2 separate regions of the Homo sapiens genome follow, and region 1 is linked to region 2. Evidence: fine-mapped expression QTL. Tissue or cell type: whole blood. Region 2 holds a variant in brackets; the other region holds the start of a gene. All regions are shown on one strand. Distances are from middle to middle.

What was found. PIP is the estimated chance that this variant, and not a neighbour inherited with it, causes the effect.
Region 1: it holds the start of STX6, and the variant in region 2 is fine-mapped to the expression of STX6 in whole blood (TOPMed, PIP above 0.99).

Annotation. Positions count from the first base shown.
Region 1 is chr1:181,018,317-181,026,496 of GRCh38, reverse strand. It overlaps STX6 (syntaxin 6), which reads left to right and starts at 3,627. Exons shown (of 8, transcript NM_005819.6): 1 at 3,627-3,858. The coding sequence starts at 3,824. RefSeq lists silencers at 3,346-3,445, 3,566-3,695 and an enhancer at 3,104-3,887.
Region 2 is chr1:181,044,861-181,053,040 of GRCh38, reverse strand. MR1 (major histocompatibility complex, class I-related) reads right to left here. Exons shown (of 6, transcript NM_001385161.1): 2 at 3,729-3,989; 3 at 2,755-3,030; 4 at 531-806. Among named protein-coding and RNA genes, the nearest start is that of MR1, 15 kb to the right of the region's middle. RefSeq lists an enhancer at 6,378-6,880 and a silencer at 7,998-8,147. The variant C/T (reference allele first, on the strand shown) is at 4,629.

The sequences.
Region 1 (8,180 bases), 27 kb after region 2:
CCCCAGAAAAATGAACAGAAGTTAAGTCCAATTAAGAGTTTCGGTTTGAGGAATTCTGACAAATGATACTCTCATGTAACACACACTCCGTCAAGATACAGAGCATTTCTAGTACCCAAGAAAGTTTCCCTTCCCAGTCAAACTCTGTCCCCCAAGACAACCACTGTTTTGATTTTTTATTCCCTGAGAAATTTAAATTATTCTTTTGGGTTGGGGGTGGGGTAGGGGTGGGGGTGTGGGAAGAGATGGGTTTTTGCTGAGTATTCTTCCCAACCTATTGTTTATGCCAGGACGTGGGTCCTATTAAATGAAAAAAAAAAAAAAGAAAGAAAGAAAGAACCTCCTTTGTTTCTCCTTGCATTTTAGCCATAGCTTCCCTTTCCTTGTGGGCAGTGGAGGCCAAGGTCTAGTTTGAGAGAGGGTAAAGGAGGGTGACACATTAAAGAAAGGAACACCTACACACACACACACACATACACACATTTTATATCTTGACACTCCACTATCTCCATTGTTGGTGCTTTTTCTAATCCCCTAATTATGGGAACCCAAGCCTCTGTCCTCTATCTTCTATTACTACTTATAAAACTCTGGCCTGTCATATGTGGTCCAATTAAGAAATTCATGGAACAGATAATAAGAGGCCGTGTCAGGCACTTAGGTGATAATAACATTAACATAGTATCCTGTCCCTCCAGGAGTTTACTGTTTGGTGGGGATAAATGACATGCTAACAGCTAATTTACATTCACCCTAAATCAAATCCTCCTCTTGTGTTCTCTTTCTTGATGGTTGGAACCAACACTACCCATTTACAACCCCAGAAGCCTTCCTCCCTCTTCTTTCATCAATTCCCCCATACCCTGAACCAATCAGTCACCAAGTATACTAACTTTGCCTCTAAAGTATGTCTCAAATGCATCACTCTTCTCCACCTTAGTTGTCACAAGCCCAGCTCAGGATACCCTCATCCCTCCTCTGGACCATAACCTCCTAGCCACTGAAGCATCTGTCTCAAATGCCAATCTGACCCTGTCAATTCCCTCAGTCCCCATGGGGAACTGTCCATAGGAAGCGTCCACTATTCTGAACATTACAAACAAGGGCCCTGATAATCTGACCCTGTCCACCTCCAGGCTTAGCTCCTGCTGCCCCCATCCTTTTCCTTCTACTCCAGCAACATGGCCCCCTTCTCCTGGCTGCTTCTAGTCACTGCTTAGGAACCCCCTGCCCCAGCCCCGAAAACACACAAATATACTGGTATCTTGTCGCTGTGTTTCTATGGCAACCTGTGCCCTTCTCTCACTGTGTGTCTCTCCCACCAGTCTGTCTCTCCCACCAGTCTGACAGTTCCTTGAAGGCAAGAACCAAGCCTTGTTCATGCCTGTGTCTCAGTGCTTAGCACACAGTAGGAGCACAACATGTGTCAGGCACTGTTTTAAGCACTTTTCACACATCACCTCATGACACTCTATAAGGAAGCTGTTATTACGGTGTCTATTTCACAGTTGAGGATAGTGAGAGATGAAGCGGCTTGCCTGAGATGCAACAGTCAGGAAGCAGCAGAACTCAAGCAATCAGACTCCAAGGATGGTCTTCAACACCATGCTCACCTACCCCTCAATTTACATGTGCTTGTTGAATGAATGAACGATGACACGTTTTCACCTCCCCAGCTAAGTAAATTAAACAGTTCTCTCCCAATAAACATTAGCAATCACTAGTATTGGACACTGCTTCCTTTCCCCACATCTGCCTTCCATCATTCGCTCCTCCAGGGATTTTGGCTTTCACCCCTCTCTTCTCTCCCCTCCTGAAACCCATTCAGCCCCTCATCATGTCTAGGTGTTTAGTCTTGTTTTCCTTTTGAAACATCTGTCAGATTCACTCCTTCTCTGTTCTCAATCGCTGTCATCCTGGTCTGGACCTCATCCCTTCAGGCCACATGACTTTAGCAGCGTCCTTACTGGTTTTCCTGACTTCAGTAACTTAGTCCTTTGGGATCTTGAGGTTTACACACATTTTTATTTAACCATCACAACAACCCATGAACTAGCTATTATTATTTATGTTTTATAGATGAGGAACTGAATGATAGAGCCAAGGTTTAAACGGGGTTTGTGTTGCTCCAAGGACTGTGCCAGCTCCAGACTGGTGACCTTGGGCAAGTCACTTAACCTCCGAGTCTCAGATTTCTCATTTATAAAATGGGCATGATAGCAGTAATTATCACATTGTAAGAGCAACTGAGATAACACTTAACATCCTGCCTGACACACACACACAGTAAGTGCTCAATGATTTTCAGCAATCAAAGTCCACAATCCCCATCCACAAATTTCATAGCATATCTAGCATATGAGTTGGTTAATGGTTCTGGGCAAAATGTTTTCTCGAATAGCTCTTGAACCACAGTGAGAGGAAGTTGTCATACCTGGCCCCTTCTTTATTCCTCGAAGGTGTGCTCTCCTGGGAAGCACCATATGCTGTATGAAAAATTACTTTACATGGTTATTTGCAGAATGTACAGCAACAGAAAGTACACCCCATCTGGTGGAAAGTGCACAGAATCTGCAGTTCTGCCCTGTCCAGGCTGTGTGACTACAGGAAGTCTTCAAGCCTCTCTGAACTTATTTTCTTATCTACAAAATGAGAAAAATGGATGGTGTGGTGGCTCACGCCCATAATCCCACCACTTTGGGAGGCAGAGGCAGGAGGATCATGTGAGCTCAGGTGTTCAAGGCCAGCCTAGGAAATATACTGAGAGCCCCATCTCTATAAAAAATTTAAAAATTAGCCGGGCGTGGTGGCGCTCACCTGTAGTCCCAGCTACTCGGGAGGCTGAGGCCGGAGGATCGCTTGAGCCCAGGAGGTCAAGGGTGCAGTGAGCTGTGATTGTGCCACTACACTCCAGCCAGGGTGACAGAGAGAGACCCTGCCCCCCAAAAAGGGGGAGGGGGGAATAATACTTTCCCCCAAAGGATACTGAGATGATGCATACACAACCTTTAGCACACTGTCCAACACAAAGCAAGACCTACTTAAAGGATCTGTGTAACATTATAATCAGATACTATGCTTCATTTTAAGTCGAGGACCAGATAGATTTATAAATTACATACTGTCAAAATTAAGTATTAAAAGTAGAGGAAAGGTAAGAGGATTTTGCAAATCAGGTACAACTACAGCTTATCCTGAAAAGCCGACTGCCTAGTTCTGAGGGAACAAGCCACTCCTCACCCTCAAGCTTGAGGAGAGGGCTGTAGAAGCCCGCCCACCTCCACCGCCCCGAGGGCTCCGCCTCCAGGGCCGAGGGACGCAGGCGTAAGCCCCGCCCACTGGGGGGGGGGGGAGAGAGAGAGAGAGAGAGAGAGAGAGAGAGAGAGAGAGAGGAGAGAGAGGAGAGAGAGGAGAGAGAGGAGAGAGAGGAGAGAGAGGAGAGAGAGGAGAGAGAGAGAGAGAGAGAGATATATGCCCTGGTCACGTGAGCGGGGTGCGGAAGTCGTGTTTCAGGCGGCGTTCGTGATTGGCCGCGGCCGAGGGTCCCGGGGGTGGGGTCAGGCCCTCCGACGCTTCGGGAGGAGCCGGGACTGGAGGCTGCCGAGGGGGCCGGCGCCCGAGTCCGGGATTCGGCCAGTGGTGCTGAGCGAGTGCTGGACCAGCGGCCGTCCTGTGCACCTGGCCTGTGCGCGTGCCCGCTGCTCGGCTTCACCCAGACTAAGGCGCGGGCAGCTGCGGGAACAGGCGGGGTGGGCGGAGGGAGACCGGGAGGCACGGGCGCCCTGTGCGCGGAGGAGGTGAAGGCGGCCGGGGCCGGGACGCCATGTCCATGGAGGACCCCTTCTTTGTGGTGAAAGGGTGAGTGTCGGCCGAGCGCTCCACCGGAGGAAGAGGTGGCGGTGCTGCCTGCCCGCACCTCCTAGGTCTTCTCGCAGTGGGGGGAGGGGAGGCAAGTTGGAGCTGGGGAGGGGGAACAGTGGAGACGGCTTAGTCTTGAGGGCCATGACCAAGCGTCAAGAGACGTTCCCTCCATCCCTACCTGGACCGTGAAGCCACTGTCCCCAGCCAAGCCCCTGGTGGTGGGGGGCCCTTTTTGGCCTGTGTGCTGCGGTACAATTTATTTGGGGGCCGAGGGGCTCAGCAGCTCTGCAGGTGGGGAAGGAGACACGCGGGTCCTGGCGCACACTGGCCGTCTAGTCGAGCATGGGATCTTGCTTCGAAGGAGCGAAAACAGCATCTGGGCAGGAAAAGGGAAATGGCCCTCCTGAGCTTTGTAGTTCGCGTTGACGGGGGTGAGCTCCATTGTCCATTGAGTTTGGAGCGCTTGTCCGCAGACTGGCGAGACCACAACAAGCCCAGAGGCGTCTGAGCACGTTTGCTGGGAGGGAGGCGGGGGCGGGGGCCGTTCTGGGAGGCTGGGGAGCAGGGCACCGGAAGACAATTCAATGGGGGAGTTTTTACTGAGTAATGTGAGGAGAGGAAAGCAGTCGTTCATACTCAGTGATGATTTGGAAGGAAAACAAAATGAAACAAGCCAAACCAAACTTTCCTCAGCTTTCTATTAGCAACCGGAATTTTCTCACAGTGCTAAAGGAAATGAGTGTTGCTTGTTAACTCCTTGATTTCATCCAGGTTGTTTGACAGGTTTCTCCTATTTCTTCTGCCTTTCAGAATAGAAAGGACTGCCTTCTGTTCCCTTACAAGCTATCCTAGCTCATCTTTGATTGCTCGATTGTTTCTTTGGAGATAGAGTCTTCAACTGCACTTTGTAATATCCACTTCGTAGCCATTAAACACATGCAAGAAGATCAATTCTGATGTAACTTTTAGTTTCTTATTAGAAACTTGTCAGTTTTCTGTTTTAAATGTCAAACATGAAAAATCTGAAAACTGCAAAGTTCCCAGGTCAGTACTGATCACCACAGAATGTCCCTTGCTTTTTACTAGTTGCTGCTAGCTTCCTATTTCTGTAGTGGTGCAAGCTGGCCGTTGTATAGTCAAGTGTTGTAGAAAATTTAAATGGTATTTTAGGTGAAATACTTTATCGATTATGCAGTAAAATACATTTATACTACTTCTTAATATTTCCCTGGAAAGTTTTTTTTCTTCACCTTACTCTAATTTAGATGGGAAAATGCTGAGTTGTAAATTTACTGGTAATATGTGTATCCCTACCTAGAAAATGTGATATTTATTAGAAGGATTGATTTAGGGGTTAATTTTTAAAATAGATGTTTTTTCCTTGATTGAAAGTTCTTAATGCTTAGGTTGGCAAAGGTTATCTCTGGCGGTAGAGATCAGAGATGATCAGAAATTTTTTGTTTGACTTTTTATGGAATTTGTCAAAAGCCTAAATTCTTCTGTCTTGGCATTTTTTTTTCTTGATGGTATCCTATACAGTCTACTAATGCTTGCTCACTGATTAAATATCACTACTTTATCGGAACATTGGCTTGGAGGGAGTTTTGATTGATTTTTACATCATTTTAGCTCCTATCTTTAAGGTTCTTGAAGGAAAAGAGATTCTCAGTTCCTTCTGCTGTGGAAAGGTAAAGTCACCCATGAAGGTGTATCCAGATTTTTGGGGAGTCATGTACCTGTGTTTATTAAAAGTATCAAAAATGCATTACACAGCATGCAAAAATTAAAGGTGCCTAAATTATGGCCCTTAGCCTAGGAGCTTCTGGTCTAATCTGAGAAACAAATTACCCCAAAATTAAATAGAAATGACAGGTGGCAAATGAATGAGTGTTGAAGTGAATGCTACAGATAAGTGCCTCAGGAGTTCAGAGAAAGGTAACTCCTTGGGAATTGTTAGGATTAGGAGAGCTTTTGGAGGCAGTAGTGTATCTTGAATTAGGTTTTGAAGATGGGCAGAATTTAGATAATCAGGCCTGTCTCTCTTACCTGGATGCTTATCAGAGTCTTTTTAATTGTTCTTCCTGCTTCTGGTCTCATTTCCTCTTTCAGCTGTCCTGGGATCTATTGGATCATTGCTGTCCAATAGAAGTATAATGCCAGCCATGTATGTCATTTTACATTTTCTAGTAGCCGCAGTAAAATATAAAGGAACAGGTGAAATTAATTCTAATGTAATCTCTAATACATTCAAAATATTCAACATGTGATTAAAGATTATTGATGAGATATTTTACTTTTGTACTAAGTCTTCTAAATCTGATACATATTTTACACTTACTGCACATTTAAATTTGGACATTAAATTTTCATCAGAAATAATTGATCTGTATTTAAAGTTCATTAAATACATTTTTTTTTTTTGAGACAGAGTCTTGTTCTGTTGCCCAGACTGGAGTGCAGTGGTGCAATCACGGCTCACTGCAACCTCTGCCTCCCAGGTTCAAGCGATTCTTGCACCTCAGCCTCCTGAGTAGCTGGGACTATAGGTGTGTACCACCTCACCTGGCTAATTTTTGTATTTTTAGGACTATGGGCAGGGCACCCGCCACCACGCCCGGCTAATTTTTTGTATTTTTTAGTAGAGACGGGGTTTCACCATGTTAGCCAGGATGGTCTCGATCTCCTGACCTTGTGATCCACCTGTCTCGGCCTCCCAAAGTGCTGTGATTACAGGCGTGAGCCACCGCGCCCGGCCTACATACTCTTTAATTGTTCCAAACATACATAAAAGGTTTTTGATAACTGAATTGCTATCAGTTACCAAGTTTACATTAATTAAAATTTAATTTCTGTCACACTAGCCACATTTCCAGTCAGTAGTTGTATGTGGCTTCCGTGTTGGACAGCACAGTGTAAGCTTTTCTAGAGTCCTAGACAGGTGTACCCTACTTAATATTATTCAGTGGCTGCTGCTGGCCTGCAGAATAAAGTGCCAACACTTCCTGACCTCACTGATCTAGCCTCTGCTCTCCCTTAGCCTTAGTACTCCAGCAGTGCCAGACTCAATACAGTGACTGTGATTGCTGTACTGGATGCTCTTACTCTACATGCACCCACACTGCCTGATTCACCCACGCAGCTTTCTGGAGTCAGTGTAAGCATCTCCCTTGCCTCCAGGAAGTGCTTCCTTTGTCACCCCTAATTATTGGACCTCTTCCTCTGTCTCTCTTTCATTATTAGACTATGAGCTCTGAGGTTTGGGACTGTTTTTTTTTTTTTTTTCCTCTGTATTTCCAGCCTACACCTTGAATATATAGTGTAAATGTTGAACACATACTCTTTGTTGATGGTGGTGATTGTGATGGAATGGTGCCTCATGGGTGAGAACACCACCAGCCAAAGGCCTAAGTTGGGCAATGTGTGTTAGAAATGATCTGGAAGAGCAGCCCAGGTGGAGTAGACAGTTTAGGGAAGTAGTAACAGCTCACATTTAAAGGATGCATCTCCAGTGCCAGGCATACATGTAAAGTGCTAAGTAAGCACTTTATATGAATTTTCACTCTGTAAAAACACCCATATGATGAATACTAGCCACATTTTAGAGATGAGAAGCTGAGGAAGTGTTAGAGGGGTTAACTTACTTGCCTAGGGTCACACAGCTAATAAGTGGTGTACTCAGGCTTCAAATTAGAACAACCTGATTTCACACTACTGTCAATACTTCCCAGTGCAGGTAAAATAGGGTCAAGTTATGTTGGCCTAAGGAGAATCTCATCTTGAGGCCATTACAGATTTTTAAAGCAAGGAAATGACATGAAATTAGGATTTTAGGAATATTGATTTGGTGGTAGTGTTGGATGCATCAGTGTGAGGAAAGATGAAAAAGGAGACCAGTTAGAAAGCTGTTGTAACTTATACATGCAGTGGTTAGTGCTTGGAAGTTTGAAGCTCCTTTTGGGAGGTTTTGACATTGTCAATGTCCTGTTCGGAACAGAATCCCACAACAGGGATTGCTCTTTTATCCTTATGAAGTAGGTATTATTATTGTCATCATTTCACAAAAAGGAAAATGAAACTTAGTAAAAAACTTCAACTTTATAAGCTTGTACGTAGAAGGGCCAGGATTTATATATTTATTACAAATATATATTATATATATAATATGGTCATTTTAAAAATTGGGATTATACGTTATATATGGTTTTATCACTTTTTCTTTTCTTTTTTTTTTTTTTTTTTTTTTTTTTGGGACAGAGTCTTACTCTGTCGCCCAGGCTGGAGTGCAATGGCGATGGCGTGATCTCAGCTCACTGCAACCT
Region 2 (8,180 bases):
CAGGCTGGAGTGTAGTGGTGCGATCTCGGCTCACTGCAACCTCCACCTCCCAGGTTCAAGCGATTCTCCTGCCTCAGCCTCCAGGAGCTGGGATTACAGGCATGCGCCACCATGCCTGGCTAATTTTTGTATTTTTAGTAGAGATGGGGTTTCACCATGTTGGCCAGGCTGGTCTCGAACTCCTGACCTCAAGTGATCCACCTGCCTCAGCCTCCCAAAGTGCTGGGATTACAGGCATGAGCCACTGCACCCATTCGTGTTTAATTTTTAAATTTTTAATTTGTAATGTAGTAAATAGCAATAGATATAACCCACATCAGCAAAAGCTCTCTGGGGTCCTCAATAATTTTTTAATAGTATGAAGGCGTCCTGGTTCCAAAAAGTGTGAGAACCACTTATTTAAAAGACCCATTCTAAGGCACACTGAGTGAGGCAGTGATCTATCCTCCCCTCCCTGGCAGCGAGCATGGTTTCCTGCTCACCCCTTTCTCCAGGCTCTCTCCCTAGACAGCCACGATCCCCGTCCTTACCCTGGGGGACCTGAAGAACCATGTGGACACCGCAGTGCTCCACATGACAGGAGTAAAGGTTGCTGCTCTGAGGATCAAGCTCAATTGATGCCCACGCCTGATAGGTTCCATCCCCACTGGGAAGAATGTCTCCATAATCAATTTCTTGGACAATTTCTTCCCCGTTTTTCATCCATGTCATGTAAATTTCTGGGGGGTAAAAGCCATGAGCTTTGCAGAAGAGAGCTGTAACCCCTGGAAAAGTTTCTTTGCGATTTACTCTGACCAGTGGGGGCTCTAGGAAGAAGAAGCTAAAGTTAAATCAAAGTGCCTTATGTACTGAGCATATAATATTAGAACTTGGCAACTGGCTTTCCTAATTTTTCTTTATTGCAGGAAACTTCTAAAGCTAAGAATGACCCAGAACTCAGGTTCATCAACAACAAACGTATTTACGTATACCTTCCATGATGGCAAGGTGCTAGGTAGTGAAGAATGTGGAGTTGGCCCATGCTCCATCCTCTAAGGGGGGAAAGTCATACAGCTTTGACTGTTTGGAAAGTGTGCTGGGGTTGTTTACTAGTAACCTTTGAAATACCTTTATGTGTCAAGGAAAACTGACCCATAAAATGTGTAAGTGACTGTTCCCAATAAGTAAGTCAGCAATAGATTGGAGATTAGAACTCCTTGTTCTCATTTCTGTGTTTAGTGCACGTAAATAACACAGCCATCCCCACTCAGTTTTGGCTCCGAATTGCCTTGTGTACTTGCGCTGGCATTTTGATGACTGCCATCAGGTACAAACATATGTAGTAGATCATGCCATGGTTGTGCCTTCGAAGAAACTGATATCATAGAAGGGCTCCAGCAGTGACACCAAAGAAGTACCCACGTGTGACCTTGCTTCCTCATGACTACTCTTAATTTTCCATACAGTCCTGTCCTTAATGTTTCTTGCTGAAATTGGGTCAAACAGCCATACCGAGACCAAAGGCACTATCTGGGGGGGACTGCTTCCTGCTCATCTCTGACTTGCCTCCTGACCCCCACCTTATCATCGGCCAACCCAATACGGAGAAGAGCCTTCACTCCAACAATGCTTTCCTTGTCTCTTTACCGAGGCATGATATTTGGTAGTAGAAAAAGGCTTTCCAACATTAAAAGTAAAATAAATGCTACTAGGAGGGACTGTGCTTTTTGATAGGGCCTGTAAGAAATTAATCCAAGATCCTTTTCTAGGAATGTGTTTTTTCTTTTCTTTTTTTTTTTTGTTTGTTTTTTTAGGAGTGTGTTTTGACCAAAAGGTTGAAAATCCATTAGGACACTGAATGTAGACAGAGGCCTGGAGAGGGGAGCTTCCCATACTCTTCCCACACACATTGTATCTAGGAGTTTCCTGTAGCATCATACAGGTGTGATTAATTTTGAATAACAAGACCATACATGAAAAGTTCTATATGAACTAAAAGTTGACCAACTGAATCATATCTTTAAGGTATAAGAGGAGCTCTTTGCTGAAAGGAATCTTATCATTAATACTTTTTTTTTTTTTTAAATAGGGTCTTGCTCTGTGACCCAGGCTGATCATGATCATGGCTCACTGCAGCCTTGACCTTCCAGGCTCAAGAGATCCTCCCACCTCAGCCTCCTGAGTATCTGGGACTACAGTCATGTGCCACCATGCTCAGCTAATTTTTTTTTTAATAGAGACAGGGTCTCACAATGTTACCCAGGCCAGTCTTAAACTCCTGGCCTTAAGCAATCCTCCTGCCTCAGCCTCCCAAAGTGCTAGGATTACAGGCATGAGCCATCATGCCCAACCTCATTAATCCTTTAGTAAAGCAGAGACCTTCTGTTTGTCTTGGTAAATCCAGATTTTTACTCCTACTGGTGGTGTGTGAGCCCTTTGTTAACTAAACAGTTTGTAAGAATTGCTCTATCTCCCAAAGAATTTCCCAGCTTATCATTGACGGAATGGAAGAATTTGCCTCAATAGATCCCTAAAAACAAGGTGCCCTTGGAGGTACTCCACTCTGTCAAGACAAGGGGAACTGTCAAATCTTGTCAAGATGCTGCTCAAAAGTAACCAGGGAAAGTTTTCGTGGGGGCTCTAGCCATGAGATCACAATAGGCCAACTAAAGAGATGGCTTTCAGGATACAGTGGATATAACCTAGATTAAAAGAGTTACGTATAAAAACAGTTGTTCAGGCAATGTGGGAATGAGGCCTTCTCTTTCTCTTTACCTGTTCTTTGTAGGGTGTCTTTCCCATACTCCAGGAATCTCTTTAGCCAGGCAATACATTCTTCTTCCAGCCAATTCTTTTGATACAGCAACTCATGCTGATTGGCCTCCCATGCCTGCTTGATGGTGTGAGCCACATTATCTACAGCCAGCCAGGAGAGGGTGTCTTTATTGAAGATCAGGAAATCCTGCCCGTCATATGCATACTGCAGAAATCCTGTGGTGCTTCCATCCTCCAGCAGCTCACAGCCAATCATTCTCTGGTAAGTGTGAGACCCTGGAACACACACAGAAGCCCAGAGGGGTCCACACAGAGACAGAGGTGGGCTCTCAAGTGCTGGGAGCAGGGGCATGGCTGGAAGCATCCTTTGGTCTACATTATGTCACCCCCCAGGCCTGCCATGGCATCGCTGAGTCCCCAGGAGGTCCCCCTTATGGAAGCCCACCTGTCAGCAGGTATCTGTGAAGTACCTACTGCCTGTCAAAGGAGTGTGCTAATTCCCGCCTTGGGGAGTTATCCTGTAATGGGAATGACTGATAAACTTTGTGGCTATTCTGACTGCAGTGGAGGAGGGAGAGAGATGCAGGAGCCAGAAATACCCCTGGGAAAGTTACTGTCGATACTCATAAGCAAGTCACTAGGCCTGACTACCAGGAAGTGAGACGCAGAATGGGCAAATTTAGAATGGAAAAGGAGATGCATATCAGAAGCCTGAGTGGAAATGGGATGCAGATACGGATACAGAGATGGGGAAGAGTGGGTGGGGCAAATGACAGAGTGCTCCTGGGGGAGAGAGGGACAGTCCAGAAGATGCACAGGCAGATGGGAGGCCCTGAACTCCACCAACCTGATTCCTCAGGCTTTGCCAAAGCTACAGCAGGTGCAATTCAGCATCCGCTTATTGGAGGCCAGCCCAGGGGTCTCTGCGGGTTGGGGTGGGATGGGGGAAGCGTCTGTCTCTGCCGCATGCACACCTGAGTGATTGTAGTGCCTCTGTAGGCGCTTCAGTTCCACCTTGAACATCTGCTGCCAGCCCCTCAGCAGCTGAGTGTACCTCTCCCAGTGATCAGGCGCGAGGTTCTCTGCCATCCATGGGGCCCGTGGCTCCTTCTGCCGAGTGACACTGTCATATGTGGTGATAGGGTGCGAGTCCACGTACCCAACCGAAATAAATTCAGGGACCCCATGGATGGGATCCGAAACGCCCAGGCGAAAATATCTCAGAGAGTGCGTCCCTGGAAAGGAGGCAAAGAAGGAAGACATGTAGGGTCCCAGATGATCCAGATCCTTCAACTGCATTCATTTAGCCCCACACGAGTGCTCCCTACTCAGCTGTACCCAGGCCTCCACGCCCCAGCTGCCATTTCCTCTTACAGAACCACAGAACCCAGGAACCGGGGCCTGGACAGGACGTAAGAGCTCCAGACCAGTGACTTGGAGCCTTTCTCGTTCAGGTTTGCAAATGCAGGATGGAATTTTATAGGTAATCTCAACTTGTAGACAAAATATAGAGTGCTGCTATGGTTGTAGGGGGAAGGGAGAAGACCACTCATTGGGGATACAGGGGGAGCTGTCCCTGCGGGAGCCCTCGGGAACTCTGAAGGCTTGAAAACCCTGATGACGCAGCCTTCTTCTTTTACCAAAGAAGCCTCTGGTGAATAAATGAGGACCCCCACTCCACCTCTGTGTGTGCACGTGTGGGCATATACACACAGGCACACAAACACATGCACTGAGCATTTTTTTTTTTTTGAGATGGAGTCTTGCTCTGTTGCCCAGGCTGGAGTGCAATGGCACGATCTCTGTTCACTGCAACCTCCGCCTCCTGGGTTCAAGTGATTGTCCTGCTCCAGCCTCCCAGGTAGCTGAGATTA[C/T]AGGCACACACCACCACGCCTGGCTAATTTTTTGTAGTTTTAGTAGAGTCAGTGTTTCATCATGTTGGCCAGGCTGGTCTCAAACTCCTGACCTCATGATCTGCACACCTCGGCCTCCCAAAGTGCTGGGATTATAGGCATGAGCCACTGCGCCTGGCCGAAATTTATTTATTTATTTTATTTTATTTATTTTTTTGAGATGGAGTCTTGCTCTGTTGCCCAGGCTGGAGTGCAGTGGCACAAACTCGGCTCACTGCAACCTCCGCCTACCGGGTTCAAGCAATTCTCTGCCCCAGCCTCCAAAATAGCTGGGATAACAGGCACTGGTCACCACGCCTGGCTAATTTTTTTGTATTTTTAGTAGAGACAGGGTTTCACCATCTTGCCCAGGCTGGTCTTGTACTCCTGACCTCGTGATCCACCCACCTCGGCCTCCCAAAGTGCTGGGATTACAGGCGTGAGCCACCGCGCCTGGCCTATTTATTTTATTTATTTTTTATTTTTTATTTTTTAGAGACAGAGTCTCACTCTGTCGCCCAGGCTGGAGTGCAGTGGCATGATCTTGGCTTACTACAACCTCTGCCTTCTGGGTTCAAGTGATTCTCCTGCCTCAGCCTCCTGAGTAGCTGGGACTACAGGCGCGTGCCACCATGCCCAGCTAATTTTTGTATATTTTTAAAGTAGAGATGGGGTTTCACCATATTGACCAGGCTGGTCTCAAACTCCTGACCTCGTGATCCGCCTGCCTTGGCCTCCCAAAGTGCTGGGATTATGGGCGTGAACCACCGTGCCCAGCCTATTTATTTATTTTTTTGAGACAGAGTCTCACTCTGTTGCCCAGGCTGGAGTGCAGTGGCGTGACCTTGGCTCACTGCAACCTCTGCCTCCTGGGTTCAAGTGATTCTCCTGCCTCAGCCTACTGAGTAGCTGAGATTACAGGTATGTGCCAGCATGCCTGGCTAATTTTTGTATTTTTAGTAAAAACAGGGTTTTGCCATGTTAGTCAGGCTGGTCTCGAATTCCTGACCTCATGATCTGCCCACCTCGGCCTCCCAAATTGCTGGGATTACAGGTGTGAGCCACCATGGCCGGCCGAAATTTTTTTTTTTTTTAAAGCACAGTGCTTTTCCTATTATGTCAAACCACTGCTGTTAACCATTTTCTTATTCTTTTTCTACTTACTAGTTATAAGGATTGTAATAAGGGTTAAAAGTAAACCAAAATGAAACAAAACTGTTTGGCCCTCCCTGCTGTTCCCACATTGAACTTCTCTCCGCTTGTCCAAGAAGCTTAGGGCCTGACGGAGACAAAGTGGTTTCAAGGTGGCATTATGGGTGGTGGTGTGTCCGCAATTGGTGGGTTCTTGGTGTCACTGACTTCAAGAATGAAGCCGTGGACCCTCGCGGTGAGTGTTACAGCTCTTAAGGTGGCGCGTCTGGAGTTTTTTCCTTCTGATGTTCGGATGTGTTTGGAGTTTCTTCTTTCTGTTGGGTTGGTGCTCTCGCTGGCTCAGGAGTGAAGCTGCAGACCTTCGCAGTGAGTGTTACAGCTCTAAAGGCGGTGCGTCTGGAGTTGTTCGTTCCTCCTGGTGGGCTCGTGGTCTCGCTGGCTTCAGGAGTGAAGCTGCAGACCTTCGCCATGAGTGTCACAGCTCATAAAGGCAGTGTGGACCCAAAGAGTGAGCAGCAGCAGGATTTATTGCAAAGAGCGAAACAACAAAGCTTCCACAGTGTGGAAGCGGACCCGAGACGGTTGCCACTGCTGGCTCGGGCAGCCTGCTTTTATTCTCTTATCTGGCCCCACCCACATCCTGCTGATTGGTAGAGCCCAGTGGTCTGTTTTGACAGGGCACTGATTGGTGCGTTTACCATCCCTCAGCTAGACACAAAGGTTCTCCACGTCCCCACCAGATTAGCTAGATACAGTGTCCACACAAAGGTTCTCCAAGTCCCCACCAGAGTAGCTAGATGCAGAGTGTCGATTGGTGCAGTCACAAACCCTGAGCTAGACACAGGGTGCTGATTGGTGTTTACAAACCTTGAGCTAGATACAGAGTGCCGATTGGTGTATTTACAATCCCTTAGCTAGACATAAAGGTTCTCCACGTCCCCACCAGACTCAGGAGCCCAGCTGGCTTCACCCAGTGGATCCCCCACTGGGGCTGCAGGTGGAGCTGCCTGCCATTCCCGCGCCGTGCGCCCGCACTCCTCAGCCCTTGGGTGGTCATGGGACTGGCGCCGTGGAGCAGGGGTGGCGCTCATCGGGGAGGCTCGGGCCGCACAGAGGCCCATGGAGGGGGTGGGAGGCTCAGGCATGGCGGGCTGCAGGTCCCCAAGCCCTGCCCCGCAGGAAGGCAGCTAAGGCCCGGCGAGAAATCGAGCTGCAGCGCTGGTGGGCTGGCACTTCTGGGGGACCCAGTACACCCTCCGCAGCCGCTGGCCCGGGTGCTAAGCCCCTCATTGCCCGGGCCGGCAGGGCCGGCTGCCCCCAGTGCAGGGCCCGCCAAGCCCACGCCCACTTGGAACTCCAGCTGGCCCGCAAGCGCCGCCCGCAGCCCGGGTTCCCGCTCGCGCCTCTCCCTCCACACCTCCCTGCAAGCTGCGGGAGCGGGCTCCGGCTTTGGCCAGCCCAGAAAGGGGCTCCCACAGTGCAGCGGTGGGCTGAAGGGCTCCTCAAGTGCCGCCAAAGTGGGAGCCCAGGCAGCGGAGGCGCCAAGAGCGAGCTAGGGCTGTGAGGACTGCCAGCACGCTGTCACCTCTCAGTGTTATGGGATCCAAGCTGGTGTGGGCCCTTAGGAGAGACTTCCAGAGAAGGTGATGTCTTAGGGAGGTCTCAGGGACAGGTAGGAGGTGAGTAGGCAGAGGGGCTGGGAGGGGATGCAGGAGGGCGGGCAGGGGGAGCAGGGCAGAGACCACATGTGCAAGCAGGAGGTTCGAGAAGGCGGGGCGTGCATGGGAACCAAATGGCCTGGGACGTCTGGAGCACAGTGACAGGCGTCACGGGCAGAGGCGATGCCTGGGAGGTGGAGCCCAGGCTGAGAAGGCTACGTACCCCATGCCATCCCCAAAAGCTGGCAAATAGAAGGTATGCAGCCACAATGGCTTTCTTCCCCTACTCTGCCTGCCGGTGTCTGCAGATGCCCATGTCCAAGCCTTTTGTCCTGTTATCTCCTGCCATTCTGACCCATCTAAATCCTTCCCAGTCCTCAAAACCCACCTCCAAAAACATTTCATCCCTAAAACAGGATCATCCCTAAAATTTCATGGCTAAATTGAGATGACAGATGGAGGCTCACATACCAGAGATCCAGATATTTAAAAGGAATAAATCAATCTAACAAACTTGAAATATGTTCTATCCCCCCACCTTGAGAGATTGCCCTTTGTATGGCTTCGAAGACCAAGTTCAAATTAAAAAATCTCACACTGTGTGAAGTTCTGGGCCTGAATGGGGCGGCACAGAGAAAGCTGGTGTCTCCCTCCAGTCCCCGGCCCTCAGCCTGAGACTCACCTCTTTTTCTTCCTGTTTCTTGCTCCTTCCAGCACTGCCAAG